Homo sapiens: one gene and its partners. The protein of the gene in region 3 interacts with the protein of the main gene of each other region in a pairwise test. Each region holds a gene or a part of one and is shown on either strand. Other genes may lie near its edges. The genes, in order: ALPP, HGF, ADAMTSL4 and LGALS14.

Evidence for each region.
Region 1: the proteins of ADAMTSL4 (region 3) and ALPP interact in binary tests that used the Homo sapiens proteins (3 or more experiments, as listed by UniProt).
Region 2: the proteins of ADAMTSL4 (region 3) and HGF interact in binary tests that used the Homo sapiens proteins (3 or more experiments, as listed by UniProt).
Region 4: the proteins of ADAMTSL4 (region 3) and LGALS14 interact in binary tests that used the Homo sapiens proteins (3 or more experiments, as listed by UniProt).

Annotation. Positions count from the first base shown.
Region 1 is NC_000002.12:232,374,043-232,381,757, reverse strand, and holds the start of ALPP (alkaline phosphatase, placental type preproprotein), read right to left. Parts: upstream 3,008-7,715; 5' UTR 2,956-3,007; coding exon 2,880-2,955; intron 2,814-2,879; exon of another isoform or gene 2,788-2,813; coding exon 2,671-2,787; intron 2,559-2,670; coding exon 2,443-2,558; intron 2,246-2,442; coding exon 2,071-2,245; intron 1,995-2,070; coding exon 1,822-1,994; intron 1,573-1,821; coding exon 1,438-1,572; intron 1,339-1,437; coding exon 1,266-1,338; intron 1,136-1,265; coding exon 1,001-1,135; intron 919-1,000; coding exon 727-918; intron 508-726; coding exon 391-507; intron 262-390; coding exon 1-261. UniProt on the Homo sapiens protein: Alkaline phosphatase that can hydrolyze various phosphate compounds.
Region 2 is NC_000007.14:81,767,033-81,774,595, forward strand, and holds the start of HGF (hepatocyte growth factor isoform 1 preproprotein), read right to left. Parts: upstream 3,016-7,563; 5' UTR 2,940-3,015; coding exon 2,852-2,939; intron 1-2,851. UniProt on the Homo sapiens protein: Potent mitogen for mature parenchymal hepatocyte cells, seems to be a hepatotrophic factor, and acts as a growth factor for a broad spectrum of tissues and cell types.
Region 3 is NC_000001.11:150,544,799-150,552,420, reverse strand, and holds the start of ADAMTSL4 (ADAMTS-like protein 4 isoform 1 precursor), read right to left. Parts: upstream 3,014-7,622; 5' UTR 2,922-3,013; intron 2,600-2,921; 5' UTR 2,526-2,599; exon of another isoform or gene 2,145-2,525; intron 2,132-2,144; coding exon of another isoform or gene 1,361-2,131; exon of another isoform or gene 1,145-1,360; coding exon of another isoform or gene 1,130-1,144; exon of another isoform or gene 217-1,129; coding exon of another isoform or gene 133-216; coding exon 113-132; intron 1-112. Other genes in the region: uncharacterized protein LOC124904417, read right to left, coding at 1,361-2,131. UniProt on the Homo sapiens protein: Positive regulation of apoptosis. May facilitate FBN1 microfibril biogenesis.
Region 4 is NC_000019.10:39,700,252-39,707,481, reverse strand, and holds the start of LGALS14 (placental protein 13-like), read right to left. Parts: upstream 3,002-7,230; 5' UTR 2,954-3,001; coding exon 2,939-2,953; intron 1,778-2,938; exon of another isoform or gene 1,575-1,777; coding exon of another isoform or gene 1,473-1,574; intron 886-1,472; coding exon 809-885; intron 305-808; coding exon 94-304; intron 1-93.

The DNA of each region.
Region 1 (7,715 bases), on a different chromosome or scaffold from region 3:
CGGCCAGCAGAGGAAGCAACGCGGGGACCACGGACCGCCCCGGGTGCGCGGCGTCGGTGGTGCCGGCGGGGGGCGCCAGGTCGCAGGCGGTGTAGGGCTCCAGGCAGGCGGCGAAGGCCATGACGTGCGCTATGAAGGTCTGCTCCTGCACGCCGTGAACCAGGTGCGCCTGCGGGCCGCGCGCGAACACCGCCACGTCCTCGCCTGCGTGGGTCTCTTCGTCCAGGGGCACTGCTGACTGCTGCCGATACTCGGGGCTCCCTGGTTGGAGGGTTCAGTTCCGGTAGGAGGGTTCATTCAGTTCCAGGCAGACAGGAGGTGACCCCTTCCCGCCAGCCCCCCATCCTTGGCACCCTGGTCCCCCTCAGGGGGCCACCCCGCGGCACTCACCGCTCTCGCTCTCGGTAACATCCGGCCGGGCGCCGTCCTTGAGCACATAGCCTGGACCGTTTCCGTATAGGAGGACCGTGTAGGCCTTCCTGTCCCGGGCCTTGCCAGGGGCCAGCCCTGCAGAGAGAGGGGTCCCTGTGGTTGAGCTGAACACAGCTGTGGAGTGTCTCCCACGTGCTAGGCACCGCCACGTTTTGCCTGGTCAGGGGCTTAGTCCTCAGGAGACCCTACAGGGCTGGTGCCAGCATTACTCCCATTTGACAGAGGAGGAGACTGAGGCTCAGATTTCACCCACTTAATTGCTGCAGCAGCACCTGCCACTCTCCCCAGGCCTACCGAAGATGGAGCTCCCTCGCAGGGGGTAGCCTCCGAAGGAGAAGACGTGGGAGTGGTCGGCAGTGACGAGGCTCAGCGTGTCCTCCTCGCTGGTGAGCTGGCCCGCCCTCTCAATGGCGTCGTCGAACATGATCGTCTCAGTCAGTGCCCGGTAAGCCCTGCTTTCATGATGACCATGGTCGATGCGACCACCTGCAGGAAGGCCAGAGGGGGGAGATGCTGAGCCTGCCCTGCTCCAACCCCCAACCCCCACTCCCCAGGGGCCACCACGCACCCTCCACGAAGAGGAAGAAGCCGCGGGGGTTCCTGCTCAGCAGGCGCAGGGCAGCCTCTGTCATCTCCATCAGGGAGGGGTCCAGTGTGGAGTCTCGGTGGATCTCGTATTTCATGTCTCCAGGCTCAAAGAGACCTGTGGGACAAGGGGTCCTGTGGTGACTGGCAGGCTGGGGGTGGGCGGGTGCTGGCGGATGTGCACACAGGCTCAGAAGGTGCCATCTGAGGCCATCTGAGGGATGCCAGGGCAGGAAGGGGGTCATTACCCATGAGATGGGTCACAGACGGGTCCAGGGAAGCCTGCATGAGCTCAGTGCGGTTCCACACATACCGGGCACCCTGTGGGGAGGGAGAGAGCCAGGCCTCAGCCCACAGCCCTGAGCCCCACACCTCTGCCCTCCCCCTGCTGTGCCCCCTGCACCCGCCAGCCCCCATCACCTGGCGCTTCGCCAGCCATTCCTGCACCAGATTCTTCCCGTCCAGCCTGGTCCCACCTTGGCTGTAGTCATCTGGGTACTCAGGGTCTGGGGTTCCCATGCGAAACATGTACTTTCGGCCTCCACCTAGGATCACCTGGGAACAGAGGATGGGGCAGGTGGATTTGGGGCCCTGGCTGGCCCCGTGCCCCCTCCTCATGCACAGCCCCTGACTCCCCTCCCCAAGGCTGTGGGAATGGCCCAGCCTGGGCTGCACCTTCTACGCCCACAACCCCACCTCCAGACCCTGCTGGCCCAGATAAGGCTTTTGGTTGCCTGGGTCTGAGCTAGTGCCCCCTCCCTGCTACTCTCTGCCCAGCCCCAGCCCTTGGCCTGGGGGTCGCACGTCAATGTCCATGTTGGAGATGAGCTGCGTAGCGATGTCCTGGCACCCCTCCTGGCGGGCGGAGGCAGGCACGTCGGCGTCCGAGTACCAGTTGCGGTTCACCGTGTGGGCGTAGGTGCCGGCTGGCGAGGCGTGCTGCACTCGTGTGGTGGTTACCACTCCCACTGACTTCCCTAAGGGTGTCAGAGGTCAGTATATGTGACCAACGTCTGTGACCTGGCCGTGACCCAGCAGCGGGCCCCAGCTCACCTGCTTTCTTGGCCCGATTCATCACGGAGATGACCTCGTTGCCGCGTGTCGTGTTGCACTGGTTAAAGCGGGCGGCTGCACTCAAGCCAATGGTCTGGAAGTTGCCCTTGACCCCGCACAGGTAGGCCGTGGCTGTGGCTCCACTGTCTGGCACATGTTTGTCTACATTGTATGTCTGGGGACAGAGACACTCTGAGCTCTTCTCTGGGGCAGACACGGAGACCCAGACCCTGATCTCTGTCCTCTGGGATTCCAACTGCCTCTAACTCCTTACTGGAGCCCCAGCTGTTTAGGGTCCCTCCCTCCTACCACACTCCATAGCCAGGATTCCCCTTCTGTGCTTGGAGGACTCTAAGGTAGCCCAGCACTTACCTTGGACAGAGCCACATATGGGAAGCGGTCCATGGCCAGGGGTATCTCAGGCCCCAGTTTGTCCTTCTTCTGCCCTTTTAGGATCCTGGCAGCTGTCACCGTAGACACCCCCATCCCTGAAGGAACAGAAATGTGTGAGGCTTGGGCCCCAGGGCTCTCCTGGAACCACTGAGGGTCCGGGCGCCGGGGCTGTGAGGGCTGCAGGGCTGGAAGGCCTGGCTCACTCACCATCGCCCAGGAAGATGATGAGGTTCTTGGCGGCTGTCTGTGCAGGCTGCAGCTTCTTGGCGGCACCCAGGGCCTCGGCTGCCTCGCGGTTCCAGAAGTCCGGGTTCTCCTCCTCAACTGGCCAGGGGGAGAGCAAAAATCAGGTCAGCCTGGGCTGGGGGGTGCCCTGTGTGTGTGTTGTGTAGGGGCAGCTCGGGGAGCCTCATTACCTGGGATGATGCCCAGGGAGAGCTGTAGCCTCAGGCCCAGCAGCAGCAGCAGCAGCAGCATGCAGGGCCCCAGCATGTCTGGAGGGCAGCAGGACAGTGGCGAGGCAGGAATTCTGGGCATGGAGTATGAGCTGCACTCCAGGCTGCCCGGGTTTAAATCAGGGAGAACTGTGTCCCGGCTTCTCCCCTCGTTGCCACCTTGACCCTGCCCAGCCTCTTGACCTGAAGCCACACTGGCTGAAGGGAGTGGCAGGGTGTGGCTGGGCTGGGCCGGGCTGGGGCTGGGGTCCTGAGAAAGGCAGCTCAGGTTGGGACCAGGTGTCCCCCAGGGAAGGGTGCGGTATTGAGTACAGATGCCATTTGGGTGAGTGTGGTGTGCCTCCCGCAGCCAGGAGCCCCTCCCCCAACCCCTGCTCACTGTGTCTTGTGTGGAACAAGACACCCTGTCACTGGATCATTCACCCATTTTTTTCTATATTTCCCAGAAGCTGGGGCCAGGCTGTGTTCTGGTGTCGAGAGGAGGGGAGGCTGGAAGCACACAGTCTGGGCCAGGGCCTGGGTTCAGCCTCCTGATGCCAGGAGCCTGGGCCCTGTGGGAAAGGGGCACGTGGGGGGCTTTGCTGCCCTGGCACCCCCTTGCTCCATCATCTTACCTTGGCCTGGACAGGTGGGGCTGGCAGGAATCTGGGCCCAGAGCTCTAGGGCTGTGGGCAGCTGTGGGGCCAATGGTGACAGCACTGAGTGGGGCCGGACCAGTCCTGCCCATTGCTCACATGTTGTGTGTGATTGTGTATGTGTTTGTGTGGGTGCACTCACACTAATGTTTGGACGACGCAGGTGGGGAGTCCACCCCAGCCCAACCACAGCAGCCCCTTCTCCACTCATGCTTGCTCGCCCCGAGCCCCAGGCTTGGCCCCCAAAACCCAGGGGACCTCACCTGCTGCTCAGCCTCTGCCTTCCCCGCACCACTCCCCACCACCCCCACGGGCCTCCCCTCAGGCCGAGCTTTCTGGAGTCCTCCTGCCTGCCCCCCGCCTGGCTTCCTGCTGGTCGTCCTGGGGCTCTCAGGGAAGATGTCACCCTCATGGGGACATTCCTTCCTCCTGCTTATTGCCCCCTTAGTTCCTTCTACCTCCTGCTTCATCTTGCTGAGTTAGGAAATTTCTGGGCTAAATTTCAGAGGAGACTCACTAACAGGCAGGCCCTTAATTAATTCATTGATTCACTCTAAAGTCAAGGCCAGTCAGGAGCTTTTGCCGCCACCCCACAATTATTTTTCGAGCTGGAATCTTTTGGTTTTGGAGACAGGGTCCCATTCTGTCAGCCAGGTTGGAGTGTGATGCCTGAGTTACGGCTCCCTGCAGCTTCGGACCTCCCAGGCTCAAGCAATCTTCCCACCTCAGCCTCTCACGTAGCTGGCACCAATGGCATGTGCCACCACACCTGACTCATTTTTTATTTTGTGTAAAGACATGGTTTTGCTATGTTGCCCAGGCTGGTCTCGAACCTCCACCTCAGCCTCCCAAAGTGTCTGGATTTACAGACATGAGCCACTGCGCTCACCTTCCTCTTTTTTTTTTTTTTTTTTTTTTGAGGCAGGGTCTCATTTGTCACCAGGCTGGACTGCGGTGGCATGATCATGGCTCACTGCCTCAGCCTTAGCCTCAGCCTCCCCAGTAGCTGGGCTTATTGGCACCAGCCACCATGCCTGGCTAATTTTTTTTGTTTTGTTTTGTAGAGTCTCACTGTGTTGCCCAGGCTGCTCTCAAACTCCTGGCTTCAAGTGATCCTCCTGCCTCAGCCTCTCAGACCACTGGGATCACAAGTGTGAGCCACTGGGCCCAGCTGGGTCTTGTCGTTTGGCAACAACATTCGTTCCCAGCCCCTGCCATGCTGTCCCCTGAGTGGCAAGGGCTGTTGCCATATTTCCCAGTGAAATGCCCTGGTAAGATCTGGAGGGCAGGAGGCAGGCAGAAGCCATTCATCCGTGGTTGGCAGTAGCTGGTGAGGGGGCGAATTCAGCCCTGCCCGGCCACTTTGGGAGGCCAAGACAGGTGGATCACCTGAGGTCGGGAGTTCAAGACCAGCCTTACCAACATGGATAATCCCCATCTCTACTAAAAAATACAAAATTAGCCAGGCATGGTGGCGCATGCCTGTAAGGTGGGCACTGAGCTGGAACATGGTCTGGACTGCACAGAGCTTGGTATCCCCAAGGGCATCAGGTGGTAGAGGGTGCTAAGGGATCTAGATGGGGCCCTACAGGACCAGCCCTTCCTTCCCAGGAAACAGAAGGACCAAGACGACCAATCCTCTGAGAATACACGCCACAGCCTGGGCCTCCCCTTGCCCCAGGTAACAGCAACCAAGAATCCCAGGAATGGAGGCTTTGGCTCTTCCTCCAGCCGGGGAAGACCTGCTGCTTCTGCTTTGAAATCCCTGGACCTCAGAGGAAGGGCTGTAACCAGACATTATGACAGGCGACTCTGGCATGAAGGTAGGAGGCAGGGTGGCCAAGCATCCCCATGTGGCCAGGGTGTCACCATAGACTTTGAATGTGGACAAATATCCTTTGTTTACTGCAAGTGACATTGGTGTGTGTCTGGTCTCCAGTCTTGCTCAGCACCTGAAAAAATTCACCACATAGTGAGCAACATAGCAAGACCCTGTTTCTATTTTATTTTATTAATTAATTAATTAATTTATTTATTTATTTTTATTTTTTTGAGATGGAGTCCCACTCTGTCCCCCAGGCTGGAGTGCAGTGGCGCAATCTCAGCTCACTGCAACCTCCACCTCCCAGGTTCAAGCGATTCTCCTGCCTCAGCCTCTTGAGTAGCTGGGATTACAGGCGCCCGCCAGCACGCCCAGCTAGTTTTTGTATTTTTATTTTTTTATTTTTGTTTATTTACTTGTTTTAGAGACGGAATCTCGCTCTGTCGCCCAGGTTGGAGTGCACTGGTGAGATCTCTGCTCACTGCTCCGCCTCCCAGGTTCAAGGGATTCTCCCACCTCAGCCTCCCGAGTAGCTGGGATTACAGGCACCTGCTACCACACCTGACTCATTTTGTATTTTTAGCGGAGATGGGGTTTCACCATGTTGGCCAAGCTGGTCTCGAACTCCTGACCTCAGGCTATCCACCTGCCTTGGCCTTCCACAGTGTTGGGATTACAGGCGTAAGCCACTGCGCCTGGCTGATTTTTGTAGTTTTAGCGGAGATGGGTTTTCACAATGTCGGCCAGGCTGGTCTCGAACTCCTGACCTCAAGTGATCTGCCCACCTCGGCCTCCCAAAGCGCTGGGATTACAGGCGTGAGTAGCTGTACATGCTGGCTCGTATGTCGCAGGTCTCATTAGCTTCTTAAATCTCCACCCGGGGTGCGCTTTTTACTATTATAATGAGCAAAGGGTCAGTTTGAGGATAGGTAAAATCAAAATGCGCATGCTCTCTAGAAAGAAAAGTCCCCACTGAAGATAGCTTTGCTTGAATGAGCTCAATTACAATTCGAATGCTGAGGCTTATTGTGTTGACTGTGCGGTCACCACGCTTGCTGCATCCCAAGAACACGGTCACTTCCTTGATTACCTATCCTGTTTCAGTACCGCCCTTTGGAAATACGTGCATGTCACATTTTGAAAAATACTGGCTGAGATGAAAATGGAAAACGCAGCTGGAACAGTTGCATCTAATCTGGATCAAATGGCAAGCTTGTTCCTTCCTTTTCTTTCTTTCCTTTTGAGATATGTCAAACATTAAAACTGCAGAAAACAGAAAGATATGGCCTAAAGAAGAGTTACAGAATTGAACGCCAAAGTAATACCACTCAGATCAAGAAATTGACTACAGCCAGGATCTCCCCATATGTACCCTGCCCCCCATTCAAACCCCACTTCTTCCTTCCCCACCAAAGGGAACCATTGACTTTGTTTTTTGAGACAGAGTCTTGCTCCGTAGCCCAGGATGGAGTGCAGTGGGGCAATCACGGCTCACTGCAGCCTTAACCTCCTGGGCCCAAGAGATTCTTCCACCTCAGCCTCCCGAGTAGTGGGGACTACAGGTGTGTGCCACCTTGCCCATTTAATTTTTGCATTTTTGGTAGAGATGGGGTTTCACCATGTTGCCCAGGCTGGTCTGGAAGTCCTGGGCTTAAGCCTCTCCTCCCAAAGTGCTGTGATTACAGGTGTGAGCCTCCACCCCCAGCACGGCCTAAATTTTTTGACACTCCTTTTCTTTTAATAGCTTTTGGCCAGAACATGCTTACTAGCAACACCTCTTCCCAACCCCTCATGAATAATCATGTAAGATTTCCATAAAGGGAGCCTCCCTAGTGCCAACTTTTGCTGTCTCATCTTTATGAGCAGCCTGCCCTGAATTCTTCTCTCTGCCTATTCTGCACTTCACTTTCAAGATGTTCTTTTTCTTTTGCAAAAATTATTGTATGCTGCATCTCCTTTGCTGTTGTGTCTCTTGTTTAAATTATTTTAAGCTAAGAAGACAAGAACCAAAGTCTCACATCAGCTGCCAACAGTACTCCAGATTATTTCAGGTGGTGTGGGTGTCAAGGCAATTCCATCTTGGGGCCTGATCTACCAGGTTGATGAATGCCAGTTCTCGGAGGGCCTCTGAGATTTCCCATTCATGTCGTGTTTCTAGTGCGGGAGCACCTACTTCCCATAAATCCTGCCCTTAGGACAAAACAACTTTGATGTTATCATATTTCAATTGTCCTACACATCCCTTTGAGGTCACCCCTCCCCTGTGGCCCTTGGTCTTGGGGGGTAAAGCTACCATCTTGTCTCACTGCCACCTGAGACCCAGACATAGCTTCTGTTTGT
Region 2 (7,563 bases), on a different chromosome or scaffold from region 3:
TACTTACGAACCTCTGTACCTTGGGCCACTTGTGATCCTGTGCTAAGATACTGACTATTCTACCATCCATCTTTTCATATGGACTTCAGTACCATATAACCCCTTCACCTGGTTTGATTCTCTATGCTGAAAATGAACTCTCAACCATAGTACAAAGTATTTCTAACAGGGTTTTTTGAAAATATATCACTTGGCCAAATGATTTTTTTTAAGTAAATTTCAGTTGATTTCACTGCTGCTCGCTTCAATATAAATGAAAAAAGAAAAAAAAAAAACACCACATAGTTCATTCACATACATTTGGGTAGAAATCTCAGCTCTGTCCCTTAACTCACAAAGAAATAAGATAACTGAGGTCTTTGAACCGGCTAAATGAGTCCAATAGTGCCAATCTTATTAGAATTAAGTGAGATGTACTTTACTACTTGGTTCATATCAGTTGCTCAACAAATTTAAGTTCCTTTCTTATTTGTTCATCTTTACATCCCCCACATACTCTTGAATATTAGGTGCTCATTTAATGCTTCTTTTATTACAGAGGATTGGATATTTGTTTCCCATGTAGGTGGGAGTGAATAGAGGGTAATTCTATATAGGCTAACTCCTACAAAGATGGCGGGGGCCCATTATATTGAATATTTCTTAAGCTTTTAAAAAAGTATCTCCATAGTGTATTCTGTTGATAACTGGTTGTCAACTTACAGTATATACTTCTTTCCTAACAATGTGTTATTTTACAATACATACAAATATAAATTCATAGAATAAATAATTATAATCAAAGCTAGTAACAACAAAAGAAACCTCTAAATAGTCAATATTAAATGTCATTTAAAAAAGAACAAACTTTGTGTGTTCTAAGAGGCTACCCATATTTTTTATTTTAAAGGTTATTAAAAAAAACTATCAAACTGGCCATCTAAACAAAGGCGCACCCTCCTTTGATGACAATTTTAGAATTATCCACTTCAGGAATTATTCACAGCATATTTGTAATTCCCAACTGGACTCTCCTTGCCTGCCAGCACTCTTGGGCTGCATTCTGCCTGTACTCAGGAAACACAGTCATTTCTACATTAGGCAAAGTGAAATATAATTACAAATGTATGTCTCCTGCCAAAAGTTCATAATGCATGCCGAAAACAAATAGACACTGCCTACGGTTGATCTACTGTTTGGGTTTTCCACACTGCGTTCCCCTTGCGTTAGCACAGATGAATTCAGGTAACCAGATTCTACTTAAGAACAGTGACATTTTAATCTTTAAAAATGAAAACCCTCAAAATATTAGCCATTATTTCAATTTAAGCTCAAAATCCCCTAAACCAGCAGTCATCTGTGAAGCATTTTTTTCTTCTTCTTCTTGAGATGGAGTCTTGCTCCGTTCCCCAGGCTGAAGTGCGGTGACACAATCTCGGCTCACTGCAACCCCCACCTCCCAGGTTCAAGAGAGTCTCCTGCCTCAGCCTCCCAAGTAGGTGGGACTACAGGTGCCTGCCACCACGCCTGGCTAATTTTTTGTATTTTTAGTAGAGACAGGGTTTCACCTTGTTAGCTAGGATGGTCTCAATCTCCTGACCTCGTGATCTGCCCGCCTCGGCCTCCCAAAGTGCTGGGATTACAGGCGTGAGCCACCGCACCCGACCCTGTGAAGCGATTTTAACATGACACATGTCAAGCATGATAACCTGCTTGATTTGAACTCACTGCTTTTTCACTTCTTCAGAAATCTTACCTAAATGCTTTCAGAGTGACCCTTTCCAAACAGTGTCATTTTCCAAACGGGCCACTTCACAAAATAAAAGAAAACCAGGTGGGTTGAATGATTTTCCTTTGCATTTAGAAAATTCTTGAGTTTTTTAACCCTTGTACCATATCAAAAACTAGATCAAAGGTCTGATAAATGTCATATTTACCATCTCAAAAGATACAGCCAGTTCTCTTTTTTATATTGTAAAAAGGCCATGTCTCCATCTGGGCATTTGTTCCCACTCTTTTATTCCCCTGCGCCTACCCTTGATATTCACTGCCTTCTCCCGTTGGCACCTCAGCCTCTACAATGATACAACAAAATACAGATGTTTCCTCTTGCCCTGATAACAAGAGAAACTTCCCAGAGCAGCAAACGAGATCTCTAAATCTCCAAGCAATATGAACTTTCAAGCAACTCCTCCCCAAACGGCAAATCCAAGGGAGAAAGTGGGAGACAGAGATGGGCAGTTCTGCAGCTTTAATCAAAGTCTCCGTGCACTGCAGTTTCAAAGGGCAGGCATCCGTACCCAGAAAGAATAAGATCTTTAAAAAGAGGCTTTCTCTTTCATTTTTATGATATGCAAATACTCAGAGTTTATTCTGCCTCCTCAAAATGAAAACCTGTACAAAGTCGTAATTTGGCTCCAAATGTTGACTAGGTGATGTGGAGTAGTGCATTATCATGAAAAATTGTTCTCTGGAAAAGGATGACTTCCTGCCGGACTGACCATCACTCTTGCCTCTTCAGACCAGACCCTCTCTTTAGCTTTAAACTTGTCCAAAGCAGCCAAGTTCAGCCAGTATTAGCACTTCCTCCCTATCTCATAATCCACAACTATTAGGCTAAGTGGGACGGGGCTTGGGTTGGAGGTGGAGGGGAGTTGAGGGAAAGTTAATTATCATTTTAAATGCTATTCAAACAACAACAAAAAAGAATGTCAAAAAAAGCATAATGAGAGCTTTTAGAAACCTATACTACATACTGAGTTCAGAAAGGATGCTGGGAATAGGGTAAAAAGAGGGTGTTAAAAGGAATAGGGAAGGTTAGCAGGAGAGTTAAATACTAATACTAATAATGAAGAAGAAGAAGGGAACTAACCTGCATAGGGGATGGCGATGGGGAGCAGGAGGAGATGCAGGAGGACATGCTGCAGCAGCAGGGCTGGCAGGAGTTTGGTCACCCACATGGTGCTGCTGGACGGGCTGGCGGATCCCTCTGGAGGAGATGCCTGGGTGAAAGAATCCTGTTCGGAGTCAGTGCCTAAAAGAGCCAGTCGGCTCTGAGCTGCTTTTTATTGCGATGAGCTAAGTTTGTTGTGTGATTAACTGGAAAGATCTAGGTCTGAACTCCCTCTTACGGTAAGAAACTGTTTAACAACAGCCCTTTACTCTCTTCCAGCCCCCTCCTTTCCTCACTCGCCCCCCCTTCAACAGCACCAAACAGATCCCTGCAACCCCCCCCATTCCCCGCCTCCCCCCAACCCCACGCTTAGGAAAGAAACTTACAAAGAAAAGGTCACCTGGCCTGAGGCCAGCTTCAATTTGGAAGCTGGAGCTCCAGATCCCAGTGGCTCCTATCCGAGTAAGGAAGGGAGGAGCAAGGCTGAGCCCAATGGCTAAATCAAGGCACAGGCAGGGGACCAATTCGCTCAATTTAAACAGGAAAATACATGTGTTTATATATCTATTTGGGAAAAGAGGAAGGGGAAGCAGCATAAGAAGAAAGCGAAGAGCTGTCTTTCAGCCAAATGTGCCCCAGCTCCTAATCTGTCTAGTTTTCCTGCTAGAGCAACTGAGGGATTCAAAACACTGACACAGGTTCTCTAGGGGTTTAGAGACCTGGGAGAGGTGGGAGCGGGGCCAGGGAGGAGAGCCCAGGCACGTCCAGCCCAGGTAGAAAGAGGTTAGTTAAGAAAAGGGTGTGGTATTGTGGGGCCAAAATAAGCAAGCAAAACAAAAGCACGCAGATTGTCAGATGAAAAAATTGCCCCTGCCCCATGGGCTCAGAGCAGGCAGCTTTTTTTTTTTTTTTTTTTTTTTTTTTTTTTCACAAACTGCCAAACTCACGAAATACCACACATTTACCCAAAGTATACAAAATAAACTTGTCTGATCTGACTTTTTAAGAGAAAGTCCAAGAAACAGTCATTGTCCATAGCCTGTCCCTGACAGGTAAATATGCCATGTGGACTTGTACAGGCACACACGTGCACACAACACATTCACACATGTTGGTGTGTATGTACGTATACACTGGTTAGGACTGACTTTCACCGGAAATCCCTCAAGCTGTTTGAATTCGTGAGTACTGAATATGCCTCTCTTTTCCAGCTTCATCTGCCTGTACACGACAGCCAGCTTCCCAAAGTGTAAGTGGAAAGATGAGGAGCTTGTATGGGCATGGGGGGACTCCTAGGTATCAAATCCTTGTGAGATCATTGCCCAGACCCCTCACTTGATTCAGAGAATTTGTCTTTGCACCCAGAGGTGGATGCTCTGGTAACTTTAAGCAAGAGCCTGCTTTATTTCTAATGGATGCTGAGGGATACTTGCCCCTGTATCTCTCTGAGATGGATATTAGTAGAGAACAGTGCCCCTGTCCACAGAGGAAAAGAAAGCAGGCCAAATGTGGGAATGACTAGAGCGGTGGGTAGCTGTACAGAAGTGATTGTGGGGCTGAATTAAACTCATCCACAGAACAGCCTTCCCTCCACATACCACCTTCATTTGTCCTCCAGCTCCCTTACCCCCACTTTCAGGGAAAAACAACCTGCCTGATAAGTCCCTGAGGTTGTGGGATATCTAGAGAAGCTAGGGATTAAGAGAATTCCTTTTGAGGGATCTATTTTATATGACCCGTTTCTATTGCTAATCCTTCTCTTTTATCATTTTCTCCTTACTTAAAAATCATTTGTCAGCCTCTGTCTGGTGTCCCCAGGATCCATTTTACTTTCTTTTTACTGTTCAGTAGACTTTTTGGGAAATCTCAGTTCAATGCATAGCCTGACCGTGACCCTGAATTGCTCCACTGCATCTCTTGTGCTTTATTAGGGTGTAGGGGCTCAGAAAAATGATACCCCAAATGAAGACCTCAGAATCAGCTCTCTCTGACCTTCTCCTGCTCTCCAGTCTCCGGCCCTTCATTCTCCCCCAAGGCGAGGCATAGAAACTAGAATCCCTCTTTCCCAAGGTGGCTCCTAGAAACCAGAACCCTTTTTCCCAAACCAGCCATAAAACCTAAGCATATCACTCTAACACCTCAACTTTCTGTGTGAAATCTGGCCATAAAGACATTATCTGACCTACCTTGTTTGATCGTAGCTCATAAGACCCCATTCCAAAGAAGGTCCTGCCCCATACCCAGAAGGAATGAGTACTGCACAGAGATACCAGGAAGAATCTCACCTTGCCAGGCGTCCCCACTCAGTCTGTTAGCATGAGATCATATTCCTTTTGTCCAGTTGTATTTCTCCACACCTGCCCACACTTTGTTGAACCTAAGCATAAAAATGGACAATTTCTTTTGTAACTTTGGGTCTTTGTTCTAAAGGCTCTCGGGTTGTGTAAAATTATGATCAAATAAATGTGTATGCCTTTTCTTCTATTGATCTGCCTCTTGACAGTAATTTTTTTTTTAGCAAACCTTCAGAGAACAATGGAAAAGTTTTCCCTTGGCCCAACAAGGGATTAAGGCTGTTTTTAAAAGAAGTTAGATTTTTCTGTAAGTAAATTCCTGTAGGTAAGGAAAGAAAAAGAACAGTGTTTCTATTTATTTTTTTCTCTCAGAAAAAAAAACTAGAGTCAGGGTTGTAAATTATTGTTATAAGTTTGGAGCAAAATCCATCTGAGATAAGGGGTTCAGGACATTAGAAAACTGAATAAACTTATTAGGTCACACATTTTCGTGACTTTTTTTACTGTCACATTAAATATGGTAAATACAACTTAAAACCTATATAATTTATATATTCATATTTCTTGACAAAAATTATTTGGTCTTTCTTTACTGAAATTGTTGCTAATATACACTGAGATCTTAATGTATGCTAAGCATCATATTACATACTATTGAAAATTATTTCATCCTTACAGTAAGTTTAAGATTATTAAAATTCTCATTTTATAGTTGAGGAAACATAGTAAGTTATTTTTATTCTTAAATAACTTGCCTAAGATCCCAAAGTAATATTCAAGTGTGAGATTCAGATTAGTCATACCCCATAGGATGGTATAAATTTTTTTAACCCCACGAGGAGAAGAATCACATGTTCCAGAGTATAATCACCAAAATAAGTCTGAGACTGGGTATATAGGAGATCCTCCATAATAATTTATAAAATAATACATAATTTTAAATCTCTCAAAACTATAAAGAAATACTCAAATGAAATTCTAATTATGCTATTAGTTTAGTCATTTTGATAACATATTCTCTTTGTTTTTTCTAAATCATGCAATGTTTTTTTCCCATCATCTACTGATTGCCTTACATAGGCATACATCATTTTATTGCCCTTCACTTTATTGTACTTCACAGATAATGTGTTTTTACAAATTAAGTTTTGTGGTGTCCTCGAATTGAGCAAGTCTGTTGGTGCCGTTTTTCCCACAGCATGTGCTCACTTTGTGTCTCCGTGTCACATTTTGGTAATTCTTGCAATATTTCAAATATTTCCTTATTATTTTACATGATGATCTGTGATCAGTGATCTTTGATGTTACTGCCATAATTGTTTTGGGCACCACAAACCACAACCCAAACTTAATCCATTCATGTGTGTATTCTGACTACTCCACTGACGAGCTGTTCACCCGTCTCTCTCCCTCCCCTCAGGCTTCTCTATTTCCTAAAACACAACATTATTGAAATTAGGCCAATTGATAGCCCTGCAATGACCTCTAAGTACTCAAGTGAAAGGAAGAGTTGCGCGTCTCTTCCTTGAAATCAAAAGCTAGAAATAAATTAAGCTTTTGGGGAAAGGCATGCCCAAAGATGAGTTAGGTCAAAAGCCAGTCCTCTTGCACCAGTTATCCGAGTTGCAAATGCAAAAGAAAAGTTCTTGAAGCAAGTTAGAAGTGCTACTCCAGTGAACACACAAATGATAAGAGAGCAGAGCAGCCTTATTGCTGATATGCAGAAAATTTGAGCAGTCTAGATAGAAGATCAAACCAGCTGCAATATTCCCTTAAGCCTTAAGCCAAAGCCACAGCAAGGCTCTGAACATCAAGCAAGACCCTCCATCAGCAAAAAGATTATCACTCGCTGAAGGCTTATATGATCGTTAGCATTTTTTAACAATAAAGTATTTTTAAGTTAAGGTATGGACATTTTTAAACATAATGCTGTTGCACACTTAATAGTCTGCTGTGTAACTTTTATATGCACTGGGAAACGAAAAAAAAATTCATGTAACTTGCTTTATTGCGATTTTTGCTTGATCACAGTGGTCTGAAACCAAACGAGCAGTATCTCCAAGGTAAGCCAGTACTTCTTAAGTGTTAAACAGTTTGAATAAATCCCCAAAAAATTGTGTCTGAAAAGTTTTTGATAAAATAACTTGTAAAGAGATTACTTTAAGTACTGCAATTTATGTAAATACTTAAATACTAGATGGATACTCATTACCCTATAATACCATTTTAAATCTGTCCTATGATTGAGGGTTCTAGTATCTCATGGATACTAGATGGATTTAATGGAAAAGCCTCTATTACTGTGCTCTTTAAAAGGCTGCTGCTTTAACACGGTATCTTTCTTTGTCTTAAGCCCAGGTTTCTCCACAAGTGATGCTTGTAAGAACGTACGTGAGG
Region 3 (7,622 bases):
CTCATCACTTCCCCTGCCCCTCCCAGTGGTCCCCTTTCCCTCACTTCCAGACACAGAGCCATCCCAGCACCTCCCCTTTTCCTCCCCCCCAACCCGTGGCCCCTTCTCTCACCTGCCAGTCCAGTTCTCCATCGCTCCCCCTCTACTGCCCCAGGGGGAGGCAGGAGCGGACTGGTCACAAAAACTACGCAGGCATCTGGGCGTGGAGGGTGCTCTCTGCAGGGACAGAAGCCTGGTGGTTACCTCTCCAGTGTCCAGAGAGCTTGGGGCTGGGAGGACAGCTCAGAGAATATGGAGGAGGGGGTGAAACTGGTCCATCCCTTTAGGATCCTCAGGGTGGGAGCAGGGAGGATCACTGCCTTGTCCATCTGTAGAGGCTACATGGTCAGGGGCTGACCTCAGCCCTCCAACTAAGGCTCAGTCCCCACCTCTGGGCCCTGTAGGGGCTTCTTAGCTCCTCCCCAAATCCTACCTAGGGACTGTTTCTAAGCCGGCTCAGGCACACACAAAAGGCTTTTTTTTTTTTTTTGAGATGGAGATCTCACTCTGTCATCCAGGCTGGAGGGCAGTGGTGCCACCAAAGCTCATTGCAGCCTCAAACTCACAGGCTCTCCTTCCTCAGCCTCCTGAGTAGGTGGGACTACATGCGTGCACCACCACACCCAGCTAATTTTGGTATTTTTTGGTGGAGATGGGATCCAGCTAAATTGCACAGGCTGGTCTTGAACTCCAGGCCTCAAGCGCTTCTCCTGCCTTGGCCTCCCAAAGTGCTGGGATGACAGGTGTGAGCCACCGCACCCAGCCAGAGGGCTCCTTCTAAAATGGTTGTCATCTGCTCCCACTCCTGCCCTCCCAGAGGTGCCTAGAAAGTAGAGGAGGAAGGCTCCACTGAGGATGCGCCAGACACTCTCTCTGAGGACCCACCAGAAGCCCCTTCCTTGGGTCTTCCAGACACAAGACCTTCCCCAGTCATCTCTCTGTCCTACTTGCCTCCCGGCTTTCTCTTCCCTTCTTAGATAAGCTCTTTAGGGAACATCCAGGCACATCTCATACACTTTTTGGCCAAGGGATAAGCTAAATGGGTTGACGGTTTAATCTCTAGAGAAGAAGCCGGCAATGTAACACCCACTCTGGGTGCCAGCATCTGGAGTTGGTTCAGTGAGGGCTTGTTTCCTGTGCGTCTCTACCAGCTGGGGAAGCGGGAAGGAGAGGTGCAGCCGGGGCTGCCTCATGCCCCAGCCACAGGCCTCTCATTCTGAAGAGCCGGGAAGTCCATCTGAAGTTCAGCTTTGAACACTGGAGAAGTGAGGCTTGGAAGCCACCCCAGCCACCAAGCCTGACTCTCTTTGCCCCCTTCTTCTCACTTTGAGTCCTTCCCACCCCTGCTCCTCATCCCACTCTTAGTTCTGCTTTCCAGGAAAAAAAAAATCTGTTTCTGTTGGATCTGAAAGGCACCCGGGAGAGGAATCCAGGGAGCCCTCGCATTGCTGAGGTGGGCCAGCTCTGGGGCAGAAAATGACCAAGAGAAGGGTAGGAATGTGCCTGGGGGCAGACACTCAGCCCCACTGCCCTCCCTGAGACCTAGGGTTCGGAATTTGAGGGAGGGGTCAGAGTGGCTGAGCCAGAGCGGGCGCCTCAGGGATTGGGGTTGGGGTGGGGGTTGCCGATGGCCACTCCTTCCCCTGGCTGGGCCGGCCACTAAGGTCAGCAACTCCACCCTGACTGAACGGGGGAGGCCAGGATCTCCAGAGAAGGGCCCATGTTCCACCCAAGTCTTCAGGCTCTGCCTGACTCTTGTTACTCCAGCTGAGGGAAGAAGAAATGGGGTGATAGTCACTGCCTGCCCCTTCTCTGATGCCGACCCCTCTTCATGCCCTCTCTGCCTCTGCTTCTCTCTGCCACCGAGATCTCTTCTCGCAGCCCCTCTCCACGGGTCTACCCAGTACACATAATCCCATCCCGAGCTGGGTTTGGCTTTGGCAGTTCCCTGGAGAAGTGAGGGGTGGGGGTGACGTGAGCTCCCGGGGCCCGGGCCAGGCCTGGCTCCCTCTCTGGAAAAGTCCCACCCCACCCTCCCCTGCGCAGCCCGGCAGGGGCCCATGCCCCCTCCTCTGCAGAAACACACGCACATTTATGCTTCTCACCCCTTTCCATGTCCCTCATTTGGTGTCGTTCCCGGCCCAGGACGAGGAAAGGAGAGGTCAGAGGTGGTCACTCTGGTGCCAGAGTAGACCCTGGTCTGGACAAACGCGGGCTCCTCCTGGCCACACCTCTCCACACTGCCCAGTGAAGACCAAGGAACAGAGACCTGCGCAGGGCTCACCCCTTCACCCCCAGGTCTCCCTGCTGGAGAGTGGTTGGACCCTGTGTTTCTGGGCCTAGCCATGGAGAATCCCTGTCCTGAGTCCGAATTCCCGGGCCCTCAGAGCCCTCCACTCCTGGGTCTGGCAGGCCACCCCAACAGGTGTCTTTCTTTTTTGTCAACCTCTTCTGCCATCGGGCTGAGCTGGATCAAGGGCACCCACCTGCGTCCCTCGCGGCGACCCTGTCCTCCAAGTTCAGGAGTGCAGTGGGGGACACACCGTCCGAGAGCACCCTCCTAGAGAGAGGGCAGGAGGCACCGGCCGCGCGGGGAGGTCATGGGTCTGTTTTCCAACTTTACTATGTGACTTAGGAGGAATTTTGGTTCACTCCCCGCCCGGGTGATGGGGCCAGAGTTCCACGGGATCAGACTCCCTCCCCAGGAATTCGACCCCAGGGGCTGGAAGATTGTCCGAGGCCACCGGAGCTGGGTCCGGGGTCGTGGCGGGGTCGCGACCGCACAGCGCAGGGAGAGGGGACGACGCGGGCGCGCGGGGCGGGCGGTCTAACGGGACCCGGGAGAGGGGCGGCCGGGGCCGGGGTCCCGGGGAGGTCTCTACCTGCTCTGCGAGCCCCCGGTGGCCCGTTAACCCTTCTGCGCCCAGGCGCTCTCTCCAGGCAACCTCGCTCCGCGGCGGCCACTGGGGCCCCTGAGCCGCGCTCCGGTCACGGCCGCCTCGGCCGCAACTCCGCCCTCGCGCCCGCCCCCGCCCAGCCCCGCCCGCCACGCGCCCCAGCCCGCGCCCCTCGGCGGCCCCGGGGTGGGGCCGGTCTGCCTCGCAGCCCCACTCGCCAGGACCACCCACCCCGGGCTGCGCGCCGGGCGCCCCCCGACGGCTGCGTGAGCTGAAGCCCGGGCTGGCCCAGCCGGGGTCGGAGGCTGCAGTCGCTCCCGGGCGCTGTCCTCGTGCCCGGCCGAGACTAGGGACTTAAGCAGCCCGGGCTGGCCCAGCCGGGGTCAGAGGCTGCAGTCGCTCCCGGGCGCTGTCCTCGTGCCCGGCTGAGACTAGGGACTTAAGCAACCCGGGCCTCCGAGCCGCTCGGGTGAGCGGTGCGAACACGGCGCGGCGCGGCGCGGCACAGGCGGGGCAGCCTCCAGGGGCGCCTGGAGCGAGGCGGCCTGGGAGAGCCGCTGGTCCGGGAGGGAAGCGCCCTGGACGGAGGTACCCGCGGCCCCCGATCCGCGTGGGTCCAGGCTCTCCCCTCCACGCAGCCTCCCCTGCAAACTCAGTCACTCCTGCCTCTCCCGTGTTGGGCAGTGGTGGTTCAGATTGCTGGGACTTCTATGAGCTTCGGTTTTTTTCCTCAGTAAGGTTTTACACTCGGGACTCAGCGAAAGGACAGCGTGCTGACTTCTGAGTCAGACTGATCTGGATTTGAACCTCAGCTCCAGCTCTTGCCAGCTATGTGGTCTTCGACGAATACTTCCACCCCTGTGTGGTGCAGTTTGCTCATCTGCAAAATGGGACTAATCTAATATATATGATGGGCTTGGATATGTCTCTTTATGCATTTATACATGGAAGAATGCACCCCAAACTCAGTAGTATTGGTGACATCTGGGGAGGGATGCAGGGTTGGGGGAGGACTGAAAAAGGCTTTTGCTTTTTACTCTGCGTTATGTTTATTATTATTATATTATTATTTATTTATTTTTTTTGAGACGGAGTCTCACTCTGTCGTCCAGGCTGGAGTGCAGTGGTGCTATCTTGGCTCACTGCAAGCTCCGCCTCCCAGGTTCACGCCATTCTCCTGCCCTAGCCTCCTGAGTAGCTGGGACTACAGGCGTCTGCCACCACGCCCGGCTAATTTTTTGTATTTTTAGTAGAGACGGGGTTTCATCGTGTTAGCCAGAATGGTCTCGATCTCCTGACCTCGTGATCCGTCCGCCTCGGCCTCCCAAAGTGCTGGGATTACAGGCGTGAGCCACCGCACCCAGCTATGTAATGTTATTTTTGTGAATTTTTTTAACCACAAGAGCAATCCATCTATTAGTTTTATCTTTTTTTTTTCTTTTTTTTTTTGAGATGGAGTTTCACTCTTGTTGCCCAGGCTGGAGTGCAGTGGCGCGATCTCGGCTCACTGCAACCTCCGCCTCCCAGGTTCAAGTGATTCTCCTGCCTCAGCCTCCCAAGTAGCTGGGATTAGAGGCATGCGCCACCATGCCTGGCTTATTTTATATTTTTTAGTAGAGACGGGATTTCTCCATGTTAGTCAGGCTAGCCTCCAACTCCCGACCTCAAGTGATCCTCCTGCCTCGGCCTCCCAAAGTTCTGGGATTATAGGCGTGAGCCACCGCGCCTGGCTATTATTTATTATAAATAATATATGTAAGCTGGGCATGGTGGTGAAAGCCTGTAGTCCTAGCTACTCAGGAGGCTGAGCGGGGAGGATTGCTTGAGCCCAGGAGTTTGAGGCTGCAGTGAACTATGATCGTGCCACTGCACTCCAGCCCCTGCGACAGAGAGAGACCTCGTCTCAAAAAATAAACACATAAATAAATAAAATATGTAAAATGGCTGGCATAGAGTAGACAATAAATGGTCACTGCTATTTTTATATTTTACTTTTTTTTTTTTGAGAAGGAGTCTTGTCCTGTCACCCAGGCTGGAGTGCAATGGCGCCATCTCAGCTCACTGCAACCTCTGCCTCCTGGGTTCAAGCCATTCTCCTGCCTCAGCCTCCTGAGTAGGTGGGATTGCAGGCACGAGCCACCACGCCTGGCTAATTTTTTGTATCTTTAGTAGAGATGGGGTTTCACCATGTTGGCCAGGCTGGTCTCGAACTCCTGACCTCATGATCCGTCCGCCTCAGCCTCCCAAAGTGCTGGGATTACAGACATGAGCCACTGCTCCCGGCCTATATTTTTACTTTCTATTTACTGACGCGTTGTATTTTGTTGGGTCTACTCAGTGTTTTAAAGGTTTTTGTTTGTTTGTTTTTTGTTTTTAAGACAGGCTAGTTTCAAACTCCTGGGCTCAAGAAATCCTCCTTCCTTGGGCTCCTAAAATGCCGGGATTACATGTGTGAGCCACTGGGCCCAACCTAAAGGCACATTTTTTTTTTTTAAATAACTTGTCAATACGTATTTTAAAACCTGGATATTTTAAAATTTCTCTTGAAAAACTAAAACACAAAAATAGAAGCTCTAACAACATTGTCCTGCATCCTCACAAAATATCAGAGGTCTTTGGTTCCCCACCTGTCATTTTTTGGGCGCCTTTTGCACTTGGTGTTGAAGAAGCAGCAAGAAGTCTCTGGCCTCAAGGAGTTGGGTCTGATCAGGCACAGACACGGCAGGTAATGGGGTCATGCGAAGGTTAATACTGGGCTCAGCTGAAGGAGATGTTATCTCTAAGAAGATGATGGATATGAAAACGTAAAATGCTTTCAAAATGTAGGAATTGGGCCGGGCGCGGTGGCTCATGCCTGCAATCCCAGCACCTTCGGAGGCCAAGGCGGGCGGATCATCTGAGGTCAGGAGTTCAAGACCAGCCTAGCCAACATGGCGAAACCCCATCTCTACTAAAAATACAAAAATTAGCCGGGTGTGGTGGTGGGCGTTTGTAATCCCAGCTACTCAGGAGGCTGAGACAGGGAGAATTGCTTGAACCTGGCAGGCGGAGGTTGCATTGAGCTGAGATCATGCCACTGCACTCCAGCTTAGGTGACAGAGCGAGACTCTGCCTCAAAAAAATAAAGAAAAGAAAAGAAAATGTAAGAATTGTGTCCCGAGCTGGGTACAATTGCAGGCACCTGTAGTCCTGGCGATTCGGGAGGCTGAAGTGGGAGGATCACTTGAGGCCAAGAGTTCAAGTCCAGCCTGGGCAACATGGCAAGACCCCATATCTAAAAAAAAAAAAAGAAGAAGAAAAAAGAAAGGAGAAAAAGAATTGTATCATTATTTGAAATTTAACATGCATATTTTTTCTCGGTAAATCACTAAGTTCTTTCAGAATAAAGGACTATTTATGCTACTTTGTATCATCTATACTTTTTCCTATTTTATATTAGAGTTTTGTTTTTTTGATAAGTCACTGAAACAACAACAACAACTTGAAAACACGAAGTACACCACGAAACATGAAGCGGGTCAGATTGACCTGCGCCTCTGGGAGGTGCCTCTCCTCATCCTCCATCTGAGTCCTGAGTTCCTACATGGGTTGAGAAGATAAAAGGTTAATGCCCCTCCCAGAGGGGTGGTTTATCTAGGGACTCCTGGTGACAACCTGGAGACATATTTATAGTGCTAGCTTTGAAGGGGAAGCCCCTTTCCCCAGACCTCAGAGTATGATATAGATGATGAGAAGCCCAGCCTTCCGGGCAGAGGAAGATATTTTGGGCCAGGGACCCTTCAGTCCTGGCCCAGTCACACCTCATCAGCATTCACTTATCTACAGGGAGGGAAGCTGCAGGACAGGAGTGTGGGAGGGGAGCCTGGGAGGAGAGAAAAGGTCTGCCTTTGACATTTGTAACTGCTGAGAACTGAAGGTCAGATACAGTCCTTTCCACTAAGAAATGGCTGCTCACCGAAGAGCTCATGAGATTTGCTACTGCTGTCACCTCTCATGGCTTGGTGGTCTGAAAATATTGTAGAAAGAAAAGAGTTTCCTATGCCTCAGCAACTTGTGAAATACCAGATTAAGTTTGTGGACACTGTCTCCAGGATAAAAAGTTTTTAGGCTGGGTGCGGTGTCTCACACCTGTAATCCCAGCACTTTGGGAGGCTGAGGTGGGTAGATTGCTTAAGCCCAGGAATTTGACACCAGCCTGGGCAACATAGCAAGACCCTGTCTCAAAAATAAACAAATACATAAATAATTTTTAAAAAGAAGTTTTTAAGGCCGGGCACTGTGGCTCACACCTGTAATCCCAGCACTTTGGGAGGCTGAGGTGGGCGGATTACCTGAGGTTGGGAGTCCAACACCAGCCTGACCAACCCTGTCTCTACTAAAAATAGAAAAGTAGCCAGGCGTGGTGGCGCATGTCTGTAATCCCAGCTACTTGGGAGGCTGAGGCAGGAGAATCACTTGAATCTGGGAGGCGGAGGTTGCGGTGAGCTCAGATTGCACCATTGCTCTCCAGCCTGGGCAACAAGAGTGAAACTCCGTCTCAAAAAAAAAAAAAAAAAAAAAAGAGAGACGTTTTTAAAAAGATTATGTAATAAGTAGATGTTCATCCAGCCTGTAATCCCAGCACTTTGGGAGGCCGAAGTGGGCAGATCGCTGAGGTCAGAAGTTTGAGACCAGTCTGGCCAACAT
Region 4 (7,230 bases), on a different chromosome or scaffold from region 3:
CCCCAAGGGACTGGTGGCACCAGGTCAATGAAAGCTGCCTCCTGCTCTAAGAGCCCACAGAGCTCCAGCGCTGGAAGATCCTGAAGTACTCACCTTGTATTCCTTGTGACGCACATAGATGCACAGCTCAAATGGTTTGCCATCTTCAAAGGGTAAATAGTAGCATTTCTCCTCATATCTCCATATGCCAAACACACAACTGTTCATGATTGCAGGATGACCAAAGTGCAGTCGGAATTGGAAAGCAATATCTGAGTCCTCATCCATCCCAGTGTAGAAATTCACCTCCAGCTGTGGGTCCTTGCTGAGGTCAAAGCACACAGCATGTTGGGCAGGTCCCCCCATTGTGCAGACACACACTCGCCACACACACAAATCCCTTCCCCCCTTTACCCAGGGCAAAAAGTCTCCCCGATGATACTGCAGTCCTGGTCCCTGTGGGGACGCTTTAGCTCCTCATGCCCCCAGGCAGGGAGATGCTGTGTTCCTCATCCCCAGACAAAAACTGAGCGCCAGTCAGTGACATGGGCCTATGACTTGTTCATTTCCTGAAAATTCTATGCCCTTTAATAAAGAGCCACAACCCAAACCCACTGAGTGTTCTCCTCCCCTAGGTTCCGTGGCTGGCCTGCATGCAGTTTCTACAGGTCTCATGTCTGTTGCTGGAAGGTCTCCAGGGCCTGCACTTGCATGAGGCCTTCATTATGCCAACTAGAGTTTTCCACATCACTCACACATAAGGTTAAACCCTTAGCAAATATTCTCCCTTCTCTCCTCCACCCCCTCCATTGGACCATGGAGTACTCACACAAAAGTGAGGATCGGTGTCCCTGTGATTATCACGCACGAACCAACAGGCAAGGAAACAGGCAGTGTGTATGGTACCTGCCAGGGTATGGAGAGTGAGTGAGAGCTAAAGGGTAAGGTGTAACCTCCCCTATGTAACAGATTCCCATGGTGCAGGAGGTTAGAGATCAAAGGTCAGACTCTGAGGCCTCTCCCCTTTCACCCTACCACAGTCAGGGCCCCATATTCCTGAAGATATGGTGGATCCATAGGTAAGAGCAATTGTTCAAGAGCCCGGATGCCTGGATTCCAGTCCTCATTTTGCCTTATACTAGCAGTGCAATCTTAGATCTATTACTTAACCTCTCCCTGCCTCAGTTTCCCCAGGACAAGGAGGACTATCAGGAATTCCTACTTTGTAGGGTGTTCTCAGTAATAGAGGAGTTAATATAGGTAAAACTTTTACCCTAATCCCTGGCATGTATAGGGTCAATTAGGGGTGACCTAACAGAACAGGGGAGTCCTCCTGAAACACTGACCTGCCTTATTTTCAACTCAGAAAATGAAAACAAGACTTGAGGGTGAAAGAATTTAAAAATTCACTCCAGTGAGAAACAACACTTGTTGAAAGAGAAAGGGAAATGACGAAAGAACAGGAAACCCCTGTGTGTGGGATGTACACGCACCACAATCATCAAGGGCAATGGACGTCCTTCCCAGAAGCGGCACACATTACTGACAGCACAGCCCCAGTACTTGCACAAATGAAGCCTGTGGGTCAGGGACATAACTGGAGGGAATGATTGATTTCTACGACGACTGCAAGTGGTTGATGATTTTTCTGTATTTTTGAGATAGGGTCTTGCTCTGTCACCCAGGCTGATATGCAGTGGTGCAATCACAGCTCACTGAAACATCGAACTCCTGGACTGCAGTGATCCTCACACATCTGCCCCCTCTTGTGTAGCTGGGGTGAAAGGTGTCTGCCACTCTGCCAGTCAGATATTTAAAGATTTTTAAAGAAAGCATATCACTATGATGCCTAGACCGGTCTCAAATTTCTGGCCTCAAGTTACCCTCCCATCTTTGCCTCCCAAATTGGTGGGATTATAGTCATGAACCAGTGAACCCAGCTGCTTTGTTGAGTAATGTCCACAGTAAGCACTGTCTGAATTCAGACAGCTTGTTCTTTCATGAGTGGAGGAACAAGTTTAGTCTCAGTTCAGACAGAGCTTACAGTGGATATTTTGTTTGATTCCGTCTCTTTAACCACGGCCTCTAATATTCTTCCCTGGCAAATCAGTATCTTCACACTCGCCTGTTCCACAATGGGAAGAACAGGCTGGGCTAGCGACAGGGAAGCTGAGCCTGGGAGGCAAAAGCCAGTGATCACTCTGTGCAGTCCCCACCTGAGGAACCATCTCTCCCATAATCTGCGTTCCTTTTCCTCACTCTTACTGGGAAGAGATATCTACTGATGATATATTTCGCTCTCATAAGTGATCTGAAACGAGTCCTTGGTAACTCACAATCCCCAAGATCCCCACCAGTTAAGCCACTTGGGATCCACATTGCCACACATGAAAAGACACACAGGTGCTTCATCAGAGGTGCTGCTGTGTGGGGAGGAACCTTCACATGCACAGAAGGCCACGTGCATGTTTTCCCTTCAATACCCAGTCACATCCCAGCACACACACCCATAGTCACACAGAGCCATGCCACTCACTGAGTTACACACACCTGCTCACTGTGCACATAAAGATGACCATGCACTGGTCTGGCTGTGCCCACACACACTCACATCACAGACAGGAAGACAAAGCACACTCACCCCCTTACACTCACTCACACACTTGCCGGTCCTGGTGGGTCATCCACCTCCCACCTAAAGTCACTTAATCTCAGCAGAGTTCACTCTCATCAGACACCACCACACCCTCACAGAGGGTTACACTGGTCCAGGGTCCACAGCCTACACCCACAATCATCTCAGATACCACAGCCTCAGGGTTTCTCTTCTACACACCCACAACTCTCGGTAATGCATTCACAGTAGGAATGCTCATATTTTCAACTCAGAAAACCTCCCCTGTTTCTTTCTTGGTTTATGTGACTTGAGATTATTGAAGGCTGTGACTTTTCAACTCACGGGTAGTGATGACATTGTTCTCTCCTTCTGGGCAGCTCTTCGGAATTGTGTCCAGTCTTCTGTGTGAATCTCTGAGTGGGATCATTTAAATGCTGCAACTCAGAGATGCCCTTTGGCTTCATGCCAGATTCCAAGCCCCTCCCAGCAAGCTTTCCGTGCAGCAGGAGAAAGACTCAGGTGTCAGAAAGAAACTCTGTCACAACCATAGATGTTTGCAGGTCTGTGTCTGTAATGCAGCAGAAATGACAGTGGGGGAGGTACCAGGCTGTGGATTGGGTTACCAGGGAAATGCATAGATAAGGATGATGGAGTGAGGGGTAGGGATTGTAAAGCCCAGCCTTTGTGCCTCTCAAGCTTTTTCTCCAGTATGCAGAATCTAGCCAGAAGGTGTACATTTCCTCAATTTGTACAATGACTAAAAATAAAAAATTGGGAATTTTGGAAAAAGACGTTAGACCTAGAAGGTAATTCTTCTCTTTGCCTTTAAAGGTTCTGGGAGGGCCTTTAAGGGTCAGATCCTTTTGACCTTGATCCTCAGGAGGATCTGGGAAGAGAAGTAGAGATAGTTCTTGCATGAACCTGCCTCACACTAGGCCCCTTGGATCTGCCAGGTGAGGGTCACTCTCATCTGTCTGTCACATACCTGGGCTCTAGCTGCATTCTCTGCTTTGTCTTGGAGTCCATGTAAAACAAAGTTTCAGAGATATTGTTTCTCCTGCAGATTCTGGGAGAAAGATGAGATTTTTTTTCTTTTTTCTTTTTTTTTACTTTTATTATAGGTTCAGGGGTACATATGCAGATAAAGTCATGTCATGAGGTTTGTGGTACATATGATTTCTTCACCTGGGTACTAAGCGTAGTACCCAATAGTTATTTTCTCTGCTCCTATCTCACCTTTCACCCTCCAACCTCAAGTAGGCTTCTGTGTGTGTTGTTCCCCTATTGGTGTCCATGAGTCTCATCATTTAGTTCACAATTATAAGTGAGAACATGCAGTATTTGGTTTTCTGTTCCTGCATTAGTTTGCTAAAAATAATGGCCTCCAGCTCCATCCATGTTCCTGCAAAAGACATGAACTCATTCTTTTTTAGGGCTTCATAGTATTCCATTGTGTATATGTATCACATTATCTGTATCCAATCTGTCCTTGATGGCATTTGGGTTCATTCTGTGTCTTTGCTATTGTGCACAGTGTTGCAATGAACATTCATATGCATATGTCTTTAAGGCAGAATAATTTCTATTCTTCTGTGTATACAGTAGTGTATACACCATTCCCAGTAATGGGATTGCGGGGTTTAATGGTAGTTCTGTTATAAGCTCTTTGAGGAATCACCACACTGCTTTCCACAATGGGTGAGCTAATTTACACCACCGCCAATAATCTGTAAGTGCTCCTTTTTCTCCACACCCTTGCCAGCATCTGTCCTTTTTTGACTTTTTAAGAAGAGCCATTCTGACTGGTGTGAGATGGTATCTCATTGTAGTTTTGATTTGCATTTCTCTAATGTTCAGTGATATTGAGCTTTTATTATATACTTGTTGGCCACCTGTATGTGTACTTTTGAGAAGCGTCCCCTGTCTCTACTAAAAATACAAAATATTAGCCGGGCCGGTGGCGGGCGCCTATAGTCCCAGCTACTCAGGAGGCTGAGGCAGGAGAATGGCATGAATGCGGGAGGGAGAGCTTGCAGTGAGCCAAGATCATGCCACTGCATTCCAGCCTGGGGGACAGAGTGAGACTTCATCTCAAAAAAAAAAGAAAAGAAAAGAAAAGAAAAGTATCTGTTCTCTGTTCTTGTCTTTTCTCGCCTTTTGTTGTTGTTTTAAGACAGGTCTCACTCTGACATTCAGGCTGGAGTGGTGTGGCTCCATCTTGGCTCACTGCAACCTCTGGCTCCTGGGCTCAGGTGATCCTCCCAGCTCAGTATCCTGAGTAGCTGGTACTGCATACCAGCTGTGCAGACCTCACCTAAGGGACCAGTACCCCCGTAGTCTGTATTCCTCTTCCCCACACTTATTGGAAAGAGACACCTACAGATCATACATTCTGCCTTTAAATTGTTCTTTTTGCCTTTAAAGATTCTGGGACAGCACTGCCCTTGATCCTCAGGATGATCCGGGGGGGAGGTAGAGAACGTCCTTGCATGAACCTGCCCCATGCTAAGCCCTTTGGCTCTACCAGGTGAGGGCTGCTCTCATCTGTCTGTCCCACACCTGGACTCTAGCAATACTCTCTCCTTTCTCTTGATGTCCATGTGAATCAAAGTTTCAGAGACACTGTTTCTCCTGCAGATTCCAGAAGAAAGGTGACATTGGTTTTTTTCTTTGTTTTTTAAACGTTTATTTTATGTTCAGGGGTACATATGCAGGGAAACTCGTGTCATGGGGTTTGCGGTAAAGATTATTTCACATCCAGGTACTAAGCCTAGTACCCAATAGTTATTTTTTCTGCTCCTGTCTCACCTTTTACCCTCCACCCTTAAGTAGGTCTCAGTGTGTGTTGTTTCCCTCTTGGTATCCATGGGCCTCATCATTTAGCTCACACTTCTAAGTGAGAACATGCAGTATTTTGTTTTTCATTTCCACATTGGTTCACTAAGGTTAATGACCTCCAACTCCATCCATGTTCCTGCAAAAGTCATAATCTCATTCTTTTTTGAGGCTGCATAGTATTCTATGGTGTATATGTACCACATTTTCTCTATCCAGTCTGTCCTTTATGAGCTATTAGGTTGAGTCCATGTTTTTGCTATTGTGCATACTGTTGTAATAAACATTCATGTGCACGTTTTTATGGTAGAATGATTTATATTCTTCTGGGTATATACTCAGTGATGGGATAGCTGGGTTGAATGGTAGTTCTATTTTAGCCATTCGAGGAACCATCACATTTCTTTCCACAATGATTAAACTAATTTACACTGCCACCAAAAATGTGTAAGTGTTCCCTTTTCTTCACAAACTTGCCAGTTTCTGTTATTTTTTGACTTTTGAATACTAGCCATTCTGACTGGTGAGAGATGGTATCCCATGGTGGTTTTGATTTGCATTTTTCTAACGTTCAGGGCTGTTGAGCTTCTTTTCATATGCTCGTTGGCCACATGTATGTCTTCTTTTAAGAAGTATCTGTTCCTGTTCTTTGTCTACTTTTTTTGAGACAGCCTGGTCTGACACCCAGGCTGAAGTGCAGTGGTGAAATCTCGTCTCACTGCAACCTCTGCCTGGGCTCAGGCGATCCTCCCAGCTCACCTTCCTGAGTCCCTGAGATTACAGGTGCCTGAGACAAGACTCAGCTAATTTTTCTATTTTTCATAGAGATAGGGTTTTGCCGTGTTGCCAAAGCTGGTCTTGAACTTCTGGACTCAAGCAATCCACCTACCTTAGCCACCCAAAGTGCTGGAATTACAAGCGTGAGCCACTGCACCCAGCCCTTTGCCCACTTTTTTATGGGGTTGTTTGTTCTTTTCTTGTAAAGTTGTTAAAGTTCCTTATAGAAGCTAGATATTAGACAATTTTCAGATACATAATTTGCAAATATTTTCTCCTATTCTGTAGGTTGTCAGTTGACTCTGTTGATAGGTTCTGTTGCTGTGCAGAAGCTCTTTAGTTTAAATAGATCCATTTGTCAATTTTTGCTTTTCTTGTGATTGCTTTTGGCATCTTTGTCAGGAATCTTTTGCCTATTTCTACATTCGGTATGGTACTGCCTAGGTAGACTTCCAGGGTTTTTATAGTTTTGGGTTTTACATTTAAGTCTTTAACCCATCTTCAGTTGATTTTTCTATATAACGCAAGAAAGTGGTTCAGGTTCAATCATCTGCACGTGGCTAGCTAGTTATCCAAAAATTATTTCCATTGCTTGTTTGGTCAACTTTGTCAAAGATCAGATTGCTGTAGGTGTGGGACCTTACTTCTTGCCTCTCTTTTCTGTTCCATTGGTCTATGTGTCTGTTTTTATGCAAGTACTATGCTGTTAGGTTACTCTGGCCCTATAGTGCAGCTTGAAGTTGGGTAATGTGATGCTTCTAGCTTTGTTCTTTTTGCTTTGGAATATCTTTTATTCAACCCACTCGGTTCAATTAATATTTAAAATATTCATTTTAAAATAGATTGTTCTAATTCTGTGAAGAATGTTATTGATAGTTCAATAGGAATACCATTGAATCTGTACATTTCTTTGGGCAATGTGGTTGTTTTAATGATAGTTATTCTTGCTATCTGTGAGCATGGAATGTTTTTCCATTTGTTTGGGTCTTCTCTACTTTTTTAAGCAGTGTTTTGTAATTCTC